Homo sapiens: one gene and its partners. The protein of the gene in region 1 interacts with the protein of each later gene in a biochemical or structural test. Each region holds a gene or a part of one and is shown in the gene's direction. Other genes may lie near its edges.

Evidence for each region. Proteins that work in one complex are often made in the same cells at the same time.
Region 2: of the proteins of SKP2 (region 1) and CDC14B, one has a biochemical effect on the other in vitro, tested with the Homo sapiens proteins (one study listed by BioGRID).
Region 3: the proteins of SKP2 (region 1) and MEF2D form a complex in vitro, tested with the Homo sapiens proteins (one study listed by BioGRID).

The regions. Positions count from the first base shown.
Region 1 is NC_000005.10:36,171,742-36,176,926, forward strand, and holds part of SKP2 (S-phase kinase-associated protein 2), read left to right. Parts: intron 1-5,185. UniProt on the Homo sapiens protein: Substrate recognition component of a SCF (SKP1-CUL1-F-box protein) E3 ubiquitin-protein ligase complex which mediates the ubiquitination and subsequent proteasomal degradation of target proteins involved in cell cycle progression, signal transduction and transcription.
Region 2 is NC_000009.12:96,518,844-96,522,343, reverse strand, and holds part of CDC14B (dual specificity protein phosphatase CDC14B), read left to right. Parts: intron 1-3,500.
Region 3 is NC_000001.11:156,497,976-156,502,017, reverse strand, and holds the start of MEF2D (myocyte-specific enhancer factor 2D), read left to right. Parts: upstream 1-1,242; 5' UTR 1,243-1,532; intron 1,533-2,137; exon of another isoform or gene 2,138-2,586; intron 2,587-3,917; exon of another isoform or gene 3,918-4,042. UniProt on the Homo sapiens protein: Transcriptional activator which binds specifically to the MEF2 element, 5'-YTA[AT](4)TAR-3', found in numerous muscle-specific, growth factor- and stress-induced genes.

The DNA.
Region 1 (5,185 bases):
TTCCAAGCCTGGACCACTGAGGCCTTCACAACATAATAGATGAGATTCATTGAGCTTCTCCTAATCATTCCTCCACATAAGTTTTCTCATTTAATCCAGTGCATGTGTTAGTCCCCTTTTTCAGATGAGGTAGCTGCTAATCAGAATGGTTAGGTAAAGGTAAACAGCTAGTGAGCTAGAGCCAAGGTTTGAATTCAGGATCTAACAGTAGAAACCTTTACACTTGAAAACAATGTATTTTTAAGCAGAAAAACTTTTAATCAACTAAATGGTTAGGTAAACCCCAACATAAAAATACATAAATGTAGCATTTGATTAGTATTAAGTAGTGGTTGTTCATTAGGGGCTATTTTGTCTGTACGGGGACATTTGTCAATGTCTGGAGACATTTTTTATTGTCACAGCTGTAGGAGTGCTGATGGTCTCTCATGGGCGGAAGCCAGGATGCTGGTGGACGGTGTATAGGATGGAGAATAGCATGCACAATAATCTGGTCCAAACATCAGTTCCAAGGTTGAAAAACTATTATAAACTCTGTTAATAAGTTCATATTTATGACTTTTACTTTTTATTCAGTCCAAGAGGGCAACGAGGATTTTTAGATGAAAACAGGCATTAGAAGTCAAAGGTAGCAGGGAGCAGTCTTTAAAAACCTTAATATTCAGTTACGCTTTATTTTACTTGTATGTTAATGAGAAAATCTTGATTTGCAAAGATAAGTGATTACAAATGGCAAGTTTTTTAAATGGCTTCACCGTCTCAGGCCAACATTCAGTTTGTGGGCTCTACAAAACCTAGTTAAACCAGCAACACACATCAACCATATCTTGATGTTAGTACTAGCTTATTTGAGTGTGTTTTGTTTATTATAGTTTTTATTATTCTGAAAAAGATTTGAATCAAACATCTGCAGAATAGATCTTAAAATTTAAGTAGTATAAAACTACTGCTCCAGGACAGATGTCCTCTGGTAAGATGTATAAAGCTATAGAAAATAATTGCTAGGATCTCATGAGTGGGTAGAAATTCGAGTCTTTCACCTGTGCAAGGACTCAAATTTGGACTACTGCCATTCCAAACACTTGCATTTTCAGACAAGGTGAACACTTTCTTTAGCAAGCTGTAAAAGCAGCAATCATGTCTTCATTTCATACCACTCTCCCCACCCAGTATTTATAATTACTATTTTAAAACTGATCATAGTGTTATACAGTCATTTAAAAAAAATGTAAAATACAGAAAAACACAAAGGGAAGCAAATTATCAATAATCTTAACATCTTGCTAGGCTTTTTCCTGTACAAAAACTGTTTTTTTTTTTAATGGGACATGGTATATTAAATACTTCGTAATATGCTTTTTAACCCCATTTTCAGTGACTACATGATGTCATCATCAGTGGCTATGTGATAGTCCATCAAATAGATATGCAATAATTTATATTAAGTCAATAACAATATATGCAGTTGATCAGAATTCTAATGGACTTTCAGAATCTTCCCAGTTTTTCTCTCCTATAAACAATTTTATGAGTGACAGAGACAAATCTTTAGATGCATTTCTAAGGATAGATTCTTAAAAGTGGAATTGCTGGGTCCAGCATTAAGTACTATTCTCAAGTTTTGGATAGTTTCTGCCAAATTTTCCTCCAAGAAGTTTAAACTCTTCACCCACGAGCATCCTCTTAGTGTGAAATCCCATCACTCTTGGTTCTTCTCTGTCTGCAGGTGAAGGGAAGGCAGTGCCTTGTTTATATTTCTTTCCCACATCTGGATCTTTCACTGGTTTACTGAAAGATTTTCTGACATGAATCGAGGCTCTGGGTGCAAGGTTGAGAAACTGCTGTAGGCAAAGTGCTGTTGGTTTTGTCCAAATTTGGCTTAAAATCTTTCCCTTTGTTCCTCCAAGAAAGAACAGAGAGCCTGTTTACCGAGTTTTGGCAGAAATAGTAGGTATTAAAATGCTGCTTGCTAGACACATTCAGGACAGAGAGACAGACTGTAAATTGAAGTGTTAGTTTTTTAATTATACCATGGGGATAAAAAGTTTTTAATGTCATTAACAATAGCACACACCATTTCATTATATATGAGATAATATGGATTTGGTTTTAGCTCATAGACTGGTACCAGATGGCCTGGGTTCAAATATCCACTCTGCCATTTACTGGGTAGACTTGAGCAAGTTGCTAAACTTGCCTGTTCCTTAGTTTTCTCAGCAGTAAAATGGAGATAAGTAGAACCCATCTCTTAGAGTTACAGGAAAGAATAAATGAGTTAAGACATGTACAGCATGTGGAACATTTCTTGCCACATGGTAAGAGTTCAATTAGTGTTGGCTGTTAATACTGTTCCTTCCCCCACTACCCCCATCACTACCTTTCCATGGAGCAATGGATGAAGCACAGAAACATTTGGTCTTGGATTTGACCTTGACTTCTGTAGCTGAAATCATCTCTCCTTTGAAGTAACGGGTTGGATTAACGGGTGGTTTCTAAGATCCTTCTAGCTCAGGTTGGGTCTACTGTTTATGGTGAAATGAAGGGGACAGTGAAAAGGAAACCTTGGCAGTGACTACTGTTTACTAACTACTTCCTGCCCAGGGAGGACAGAGCTTAAGTGTGGGCCAGAGGAAACTAACCCTTTATCCCCCAATGTTTCGTTCTTTCTCCAGTGGTGTCAAAGTATGATTGCATCAGATTTTGCTGATGGCTAGTTGGCTGGCTAGATGATTGGTCCCTCAAAATTTTATTGTGTACTTTTTTCATTTTTTGGTCATTTATTAAATATTTATTGAGCACCTACAGTGATTGAACAAAACAGAGCCTTGAACAAAACAGAGAAAGTCACTCTTATGAAGATTACTTTCTAGTGGGGGAGCCAGAAAGTGAACATATTTCATAAATGTTATGAAAGGAGGTAAAAATGCAAGGACGAAGAGCAAAGCAGAGTAACCAGATAGAATGTGGCAGAAAGAGGACTACTTTTAGATGGAATGGTTAAAGACAGGGCCTCTCTGAGGAGACTGTACTGGACCCAGAGAACTGACTGAGTGAAGAAGGAATCCATATGCATATGTGAGAGAAGAACATTCAAGAACAAAGGACCAGTGAGTGCAAATACCTTGATATGGAACCAATGTGTGAGAGGGAGCAGGGAGAACAGTGAGAGGAGAAAGATGGCCAAGGGCTGTCTAAGCCAAGGCAAAAGCTTTGAATTTTTCCTAAGTGACATGGGATATGGGAAGCCATTGGAGTATTTCGAGCAGAGCAATATGACTGACTTCATTTTAAAAGACTCACGCTAGTGCTGTGTTGAGAAAAGGCTGTAGCGGGGAAGTATGAAGCAGGGAGACCAGTTAGCAGACTAGGCTGGTGACACTTAAGGTGGTAAGAAATGATCAGATTTGGGCACATTTTAAAAACCAACATCATGAGATTTGGTGACACAATGAACGTGGGATGTGAGAAAAATAGTCCACTATGATTTCAAGGGTTTTGGCTGAAGCCACTGGATTCGTGAAATTATCACTTGCTGAGATGGGAAAGAGTTTAGGGAAGGAGGAAATTTGGGGGAGAAATTGAGTATTTGATTTTAGACATAAATTTAGAGGCCTATCTCATATCCAAACGGTATGTTGAGGAGGCAGTTGAAAATGCAAGTCCAGAATTTAGGAGAGGGGATATACTTGTGAGACGAAAAAACCCTCAAATGTTAATGAAGTTTGCCTGTTGTTCTAAATAAGTAACATTTATTGATTCATTTTCTGATTGCCAAGTAGCTTACATGACTTTCTTCCAAATTCTGAAAAGTTGCCTGTAATCCAAACACCCTTGAATACTGCAGTTAACATTTTGGATGTATTTCCTTGCAGCCTTTTTTTTTTCTTCTCTCTTTCTTTCTGTGTATGTGTTTGTGTGTAAATGTGAGTTTGAGTGTGTTTTGACCAAGTTGAAATTATAACGCATTGTATATATTTTGTTTACAAGCTATCCTAGTATTTTTTTAAATGTATGAAATGTTATCAGAAAGCGTTTTCATAATGATTAGCAGTGTATTTCACGGAATGGATGAGGTTAACATATTAAACTAACTGGAGGAGGGGCTAATATAACTGTTGCCACATTGAATATATTCATACACATCTATATTTTTCTAAAAGTGGAATTACTGGGCCAAAAGTAAACTGTATAATTCTCTGAATTCTTTAAAAAAAAAAGAAAATCAGTTCACTATCCAAAAAAAGCAGGAATCAGTTCACTATCCAAAAAACGCAGGGTTCAGGCTCCTGAAAGCCTGCAAATAAAATTAAATATCTACCTGTGGTACATGGAAGACCTACTTTATGGTAGACCTACTTTATAATAGAATTTTTTTTCACTTGATGGCTGAGAAGAAATATTTCTAATTTTATTTGGTATTTCTTGCTCCTTTTTATTATCTTGGTATTTTGCAATGTAGATTTGTTCATGTTCATTGCCTATTTTTGATTTATCTTTTTTCTCTTTATATAAGATTAACTCACTGTTTAATATATGTTGAAAACATTCCCAGTTTTCTGATACTTTTTAAATTGTTTTAATATGGTAGTTTTAAAATTTTATGTAGTAAATTTATGTGTTCCCTATGTTTTCTTTTATGTTTAGAAATACCTTATACCAAGATTCAATTAAATAATTACCCTGAATTATTTATTTAGTAATTTTTAATATTTAATATATTATTACCCTAAATACAAAAATATTATTTTTGTATTTAGAACTTATTATGTGGAATGTATTTAAATATGTTATTTGAGTTGGAGAAATATTTTTTTCCAGTTGTAGTGGCAATATTTCTTTTTACTGATCCATTATTTCTCTTGTTGATCTGAGGTGCTACCTTTGTAATATATTGTTTGCTTATATATACTGGTGTTTAATTTTACTTTTTGCTTTTGTGAATGGGATTTTTTTCCCTATTATTTTTCCAGCCTGCTATTGCTGATACATAGATAAGCTAAAGATTGTCATTTTACACAGTTTTCTTTTTCGGATGATTCTCTTGGGCTTTTTGGGTAGAAAATTTTATGTTCCAAGATGATCATTTTTTCTTTCTAATAGTGTGTGGTTCTAATTGCATTGCCCTGAACTTCCAGCATGATGTTCAATGATAGTAGTGATAACAAATATCCTTGTCTTGTTCCTC
Region 2 (3,500 bases), on another chromosome or scaffold:
GCTCTCAGCTGTCCCTTGTTTACCTTGGTCCTCATGAGCCTTTATGGGTGGGAAGGCGACATCAGGGATACTTTTTCTCCATGAATAATCAGCATGGGGCATCCTCAGGAGCGCGACAGCAGATGTAAAGCCCAGGATGCCAGACTTGTCCATAGTTACTAAAGTGGTGTATTTCTTTACATTTGCCATGTTGCAGATCATTTGTTTTGATAAGCATGACATGATGGCTTAATGACATTATGTTGTTTTGGGGCAACAATGAACTGGTCTAAACTATATTTTGGGTTTTTCGTTTGTTTCTTTGGGGAATGATTTTCTAATTATAGAGGAAGATTTAGCCTGAGAATAGGAAATGTTGTAGTACTGAGTGTATGTATGTCTATGTGTACATTCTTGTGAATGTGTGTTAGTTGGGATTCAACCTGATGGAGCATCCAAGATTGTTAGAAAAATATGCAGAAGCAAAGTACATGACCATGGTATTTTTTGTAGGCTGTTCTTTAGTAAATGCTCCCACTTGTTGCCATTGGATTTCTTCCTTCTAGTTACTTCCTTTTTCATTGTGGGACACCAGATTTCCAGCCTTCTTTTTTGCGGGGAGGGAGTGTGATGGACATAGATCATTTATTCAGTAAGCATCTTGTAATATGGTAAGGAAGTATGATATAATATACCATTTATATTGGCAGAGAACAGGTTTTCTTTTCAATTAAAAGTAATTCCTCACTAGTGTCTCGTCATAAAAATTCTGAAGTAGAATTACACCTAAGGCATGTGTCATTATGGGTTGCTCCCCTGGGAGGTTCTTCTTAAAAGACCCAAGGCAAAGAATTGAGTTTTACAATATGCAGTGTTATGTGAATGAATGTAGGGCATCCATTTTGATTATAGGCATTTATTAAGCATTTCTTTTGCAACTTAGTGGTACTTTAGTCAACTATACTTTTTTAAAAATGGTGCCTTTTGGCCAGGTGTGGTGGCTCATGCCTGTAATCCCAGCACTTTGGGAGGCCAAGGTGGGCAGATCACCTGAGGTCAGGAGTTCAAGACCAGCCTGGCCAATATGGTGAAACCCCGTCTCTACAAAAATACAAAAACTAGCCGGGCATGATGGTGGGAGCTGTAGGCATTATAGGATCCCAGCTACTCGGGAGGGTGAGGCAGGAGGATCGCTTGAACCCGGGAGGCAGAGATTGCATTGAGCCGAGATCGTGCCATTGCACTCCAGCCTGGGTGACAGAGTGAGACTCTATCTCAAAAAACAAACAAACAAACAAAAATAGTGCCTTTGTATAATTTACTTAACTCCAAATGCCATTTTGTTTTTAATTTCCTTATTAAAAGTCTTCACCTAAGGCCTTAATGGTTTTTCTTTGGAAGTATTATGGTGGCTCCAGGTAATCATCCAGATACTAATTCTGGATGTGGTGGAGGAGGCAGGCAGCACCCTCGAGCAGTGCTTCTCAGACTTCAGTGTGCAGGAGGCACCCGGGCGCTTGTTGAAATATGGGTTATGATTGGTGGGGTGGGGGTGGGGCCCAAGAGTTCACATTTCTATCCGAGGCTGCTGGTCCAGGGACCACACATTGAATTGCAAGCCCTAGGAAACTGATGCTTTTGTGGGTTGATTTTAGCTGTGTCTGGGATTTTTTGTTTTGTTTTTCAGAATCAGCATCATCAGTTTATGTTTTAATATTTTGTTGCCTGCTGTTCAAAAGTCAAGTTGAGAGTCAGGGGATACAAATCCTGCTTAGTCAAAAGTTTTTGTTAAATAGGAAATTTCCTTTAGTCACCCTCTGAATCTGCTACTCTCATTAACGTGAGTTCAAATCTAGCTGGGCGTGGCTGTGCGCACCTGTAGACCAGGCTATGCGGGAGGCTGAGGCAACAGGACTACTTGAGCCCAGGAGTCTGAGGCTGCAGTGAGCCATGATCACTGCATCCAGCCTGGGTGACAGAGTGAGACCCTGTCTAAATAAATAAGTAAAATCAAGTACAATGGTAAAAGTTAAAAAACAAAGAGGTAGCTCAGGATTCCTTTTGGTAATATCCCAAAAACAATATATATAAATAGCCCCACATAACACAAATAACAAAGTTTTAGGCCACACTTTTAAAGAAGAAAGCGAAATGCTAGTTTTTCTAAGCTCTGAGTTATGTGTATAGACCCGAGGGGATTTTTGATGAGTCTCAGCAAATCTCCTTCCTCCTCCCTTACAACATTTTGCTTATCCCCGTCTCTGCTTTTTCAAACCCTCTCTGCTATTATTTGCAGTTTTTTGGCCCTAGAAAAGATCAATTGAAGATTTTCTTTCTTTCCCTCTTGTGTCTATGTTGTTATTTTAGGAATAGAAGTCCCTGAGGGACTGTTCTCAACAGTTGCTTGGGTTGAAAAATACAAAATCAATTTCTTCATCCAAGTTTGACTCATTGATTTCTGTGAGCAAGTTATTTTGCTTTAGCATTGGCACTTAGCCTTATGAAAATACAGTACATGCAAGAAGGAAAGTTAGTGAGAAATACACAAGTACTAGTGATTCTTAGGAGAAGGTTATAGTACATAAAATATTATTCCAATGATTGGTTTCTCTTTTTTTTTTTTTTTTTTTTTTTAAGACAGAGTCTTGCTCTGTTGGCCGGGCTGGAGTGCAATGGTGTGCCCTCGGCTCACTGCAACCTCTGCCTCCCAGGTTCAAGTGATTCTGCTGCCTGAGCCTCCGGAGTATCTGGGATTATGCACCACCACACCCAGCTAATTTTTTGTATTTTTAGTAGAGACAAGGTTTCACCATGTTGGCCAGGCTGGTCTCGAAATCCTGACCTCAAGTGGTACACCCACCTCAGCCTCCCAAAGTGCTAGGATTACAGGCATGAACCACCGGCGCCTGGCCGGTTTCTCTTTTATAAATGGTCAGTTTTGGGGGAGAGTTTAAGTTTTTAGTGATTATAAAATGGCCATTTGCTCAGCCTGTCTGATCCTGACTACAATGATGACAGGAAACCATGTGGCACCATGACATTGAGCTGATCTTCAGGACGTGATGACAAGTATATTGTCTGTGCTAAAATGGATTTGGTAGATTGCATAACTTGAGCCATGAGGCCTGTCGTTCTGCATACTGATGGTTTTGGTAGGTTTGGAGATGAGTATATCTGTTAGCAATGGAAAATAATTCTTTTTTTATTTTTATTTTTTATTTTTATTTTTGAGACAGAGTATCGCCCTGTCGCCCAGGCTGGAGTAAAGTGGTGCGATCTCGGCTCACTGCAAGCTCCGCCTCCTGGGATCATGCCATTCTCCTGCCTCAGCCTCCCAAGTAGCTGGGAATACAGGCGCCCACCACCACGCCCGGCTAAATTTTTGTATTTTTAGTAGAGACAGGGTTTCACTGTGTTAGCCAGGATGGTCTCGATCTCCTGACCTCGTGATCTGCCCACCTTGGCCTCCCAAAGTGCTGGGATTACAGGTGTGAGCCACTGCACCCGGCCGGAAAATAATT
Region 3 (4,042 bases), on another chromosome or scaffold:
CAGGAGAATCGCTTGAACCTGGGAGGCGGAAGTTGCAGTGAGCCAAGATCGCGCCACTGCACTCCAGCCTGGGCGACGAAGAAAGACTCCGTCTCAAAAAAAAAAAAAAAAAAATTCGGGGTGTGTGAAGAACTGAGTGAGTGCCCTTCTGTTCTGCAAGGTTCTTTGAGATCTAAGCCAGATGCCATCATTTCCTTACGCTCTTGGGAGAAAGCAGCAGGACTTGGAAGTAACAGGGATGCTGAAGCCTGACGGGTCAGTTGTCCAGTAGGCATGGCACCCACACTCCTGTTGTAGGGCACGTAAATATTCACCACACCCTGGAGCAACCAGGAATATAAAAATAAAAAATTTTAAAGAGCTACTACTGCTTCTTTAATAAGACATTTCTGGGTGTTTACTGTGCGGCGGGAGGTGGGGAGGAATTAGGGTCCCGCCCCTTTAAATTGCCCCCTCGGCAGTAAGTGCTGTGGGGCCCCGCAAGCACTGGAGATTAGGTCACCCAAGAACTATGAGCTGTCGCTTTAAATTGCTGGGCGTCTGCCGAGCCGGGCCCTGGGACCGGAGGGGGCCTGTCACAGGTAGAGGGAGCAACTGAGCTCCCTAGGTAACACCCCCCAACCCCAAGAATGTCGCCCGTGAGTGGGGCTTTGTCACACACCAAGTGGGGGAGATGGGAGCTTTTCACCACTTCCAGTCTCCCCTTAATTTATCTACTTAGACTCCCACCTCCCAACTCTCCTGGGGCCCGGGGCCGCGAGGAGGTGCCGAGGTGGCGCGTGTTGAGAGTGTGCGTGCAGCTCGCACGGCCTCCCCGGAAAGGACCTCCTGGAGCACGCGGTGGCAGCAGCGCCAGGCGGGCGGGCGGGCGGCCGGCGTGCTCCGAGGGGCACCGTGGGAGCGGACCGATCCCTTTAAAGGCCTCTGGGTCTCGCCTCCCTACTTTGCCTCGCTTCGTCCCTTCCTCCCTCCCTCCCGGCAGGCGGAGGGATCCGCCGCTCCCAGCGCCGCAGCCTAGCTTGGGAGGGCGGTGGGGTGGGGGCCGACCCGGCCTGGCCCGGCCAGCCCTGGGGAAGCGAGGGGCGGGGCCGCGTCCTCGGGACCGCCCCAGCCCCGGCTCCGCCCCGCCACCCCCACAGGTGCCTCCCATTGGCCCCCACGCCTGTCCGTCACCCCTTTCCCCCCACCCCTCAAGCTAGGCTGAGCTGTGCCTACGTCGGCCTCGACTCCCGGGGGCTGGAGGAGTTACCTTTGGAGCCCGAAAGGAGGAAGGAAGCAAAATATCAACAACAGCCGAGGCGGCTCAGGCGCTCGGCCCCGGTTCCCCGCTTGCCTGCCGCCCGCCTGCTGGCCCCCGCGCCCACGACGGGGGCCCAGGCCTCACGGCGCCGCCCAGGGCCCGCGCGGACGCCGGCCTCATTTATTATTCTCCCCGCCCGGAGCTGCGGCTTCCCGGTGTTGAAGATCCCCCGGACCAGGGGCGAGGGCTACCCGCTCTTTGCCGTGACAACACCGTTCCCCCAGCCGGGCTGGTGAGTAGAGAAAAATAATGCGCCTGCCACTTTAAGAGGCCCCCTCCCCCACCCGGTCCAGGGGTTGGGGTGGAGGGTGGTCTAGACCGTCCCCCTGAGGGGTGGGATGGGGCAGCCCCCGGGCCGGGAGGAACTCGCGAAGCGGGCCGTGTTTTCGTGTGGCGTTGGCGGGGATTACCTAGGGGACTGTTTGTGTCAGGGAGTCTGTCGTGGGGGACAAGTGGAGTGGGCTGCAATTCCCTTGGGTGTTGGGAGTACGGGGTGGGGACGGGCGGATTGGGGGCGCGCCCGCCTGTTCGTGTAGGGGGTTTACGACGGCCTCCGAGCGGTCTGGGACGGGGCGCCATCCTCCGAGGGGGTCTCCGGTGACAGTCGGGAGCGACTGACATTTTAACAGCCGGCCCTCCCTCCCTCTCCCTCCTCTCGCCGCCTGTTCCCTCCTCCTTGGCCCGAAATGGTGCAGAAGGGGGCCTGGGAGGGCGGCGGGAGGGTGGAGGCGGGGGGAGCCGCAGCTGTTTGGGAAGCGGGGGAGGGAGGGGGGATGTTGTTCAGATGACACCGGGGTAGTGGGTTGGGGTGTGTGAGTGTGTGTGTCTCCGGGGCCCGTGTTTGCCGGGTGCCTGTGGAGTTGGGACGCGGAGTCGCCACGAGGTGGGCACGCAGGACCCTTCCTTGAGACCTCCTAGCCCCGCTTCCGAGACCCCTGATGTGGTTTGTCAGTAACCCCAACTGGAGAACTCCCTGGCCAGAAGTTTGCAGCTGTTCAACATCTGGGCAAGAGTTCTCTAGTCCTTTCCACCTATGGCAGGCGGAGCTGGGCTGCGAGCGGGGGTTTAGGGAGTTTGGGGGGGCTTTTGGGAGGATGGGCCAAGGAGACCAAAATGCTTTTAGTCCCCCACTCCAATGCCAGCTTCTCTCCTACCAGGTTCGGGTCTTAGGGGGATGGGGAAAGGGGCCCCCTCCCCCTAGTGAATCACGCTGTCCTCTCAGCAGCCTTCCGAGGACTCCTCCTGAAAGGAAGGCACTCTAGAAGCCACCGACCGGGTTATCCCAGGTTTGCCCTTCTGAATGGGAGCCTCCCTCTGCCTCCCATTGCTTGGTGCATTGTTGATGGGTTGGGGGAGGGTATAGCGGGTTGGGGGGGATCCTGTGTCCCTCTTTGCTGTGCCCAACCCCCATTTGAGTTTTCCTCAGAGTCCTGGTTTCTTTGCTTTGGGGTGGAGGTGGCCCTTATCCACTCCTCCTCCTATCCCTTCAGTGGGTCTCCGCAGCAATTCAGGGTCCAGCCTAGACTATGGGAAGTTTGCCGTCTGGGGCGGTGACCTTGGGCTGCTCTGGCCTGGAGATAGGAGGGGAGCGCAGGTCAGCCTGAGATTGGGTGTTTTGGCGTTTGGGAGCTGTCCACCTCCCACTCCTCTCCCAACCCCAACAGGAAGGTCTCAGTAGCTGAGGAGAGCATTGAAAAGGCACATGTCAGTGTTCACAGATGTCCACCCGCTTGTGGCCACGGGGTCACACCCGCCCCAGGACTTAGTCTGGCTGTCCCAGCTCCCACGGCCCTGCCTGGGAATGAATTTCCTTCCTGTGGTTTCCCAGTGTGTTGGGCAGGAGATGGGGGTGGGGTAGGACTATTGTGGGAGTGGCTGAGGACCTCTTTATACGGGGTGATTGGGGGACACTGGAGCTTATATGGAGCTCCTTCCCCACTTGCCCCAGCATAGGCATTTGGACCTTTGGGTCTCAGTGATTATATTCTCTTTGTTGTAACTCCCCTGCCCCCGCCAACACACCCTGTATGTTTGCATATGTGTGTATATGTATGTGTGTGCATGTACATTTGTAAAGGGAGAGGTCTCTGGTCTCTCTGGGGGGAAGGGGGGGAGGGGGGAAGGGAGGAAGGGAGGAGCTTTTACTCACCCCTGTAGGGACCCAAAAGGTTGAGTTTTTTACCTGAGATCACACAGCAAATCTGTGTCAGAGCTTTCGTCTTTCCACTCTTTTAGGCACAACTTCATAGTAGGGAGGGATTCTGGGAAGGGAGACATACAGTCCGTGTTCATGGAAGCCCCAGTCCAAGGGAAGAAGCAGGACCCAGAGAGCCTCATGATCCTTGTGTTGGGGGATGGGCATGGGGAATTGGCTAGAGCTTCTGTCTGCTGTACTCAATGCCTGAAAGATTGGTGGAGGACTTGGAGGGGTGGCAGGTGCTGTCCGTGTCCACCCCACTCTGTGCTTGGTGCCCCTGGGCTGGAGGGCCTGGGCATCCTGGCTCTGCCCCCTTGGCTCCTGGTTCTTCTCATAGGCTGGGAGATATGATAGTCTTTCTGGCTGCTGTTATATAATCTCTCTGTAGCAGGGTTTTTTTTTTTTTTTTTTTTTTTTTTAATCTTTCCTGGGAGATGTGATAGGGAAGAGAAGCCAGAGGGAGACTCTTCAGGTTGGGGGGAGCTAAAGGAGCAGTAGTAAGGAAGCTTGGAGTGGGAGGTGCCTTGGCCCCCGAGGAGGCCTTG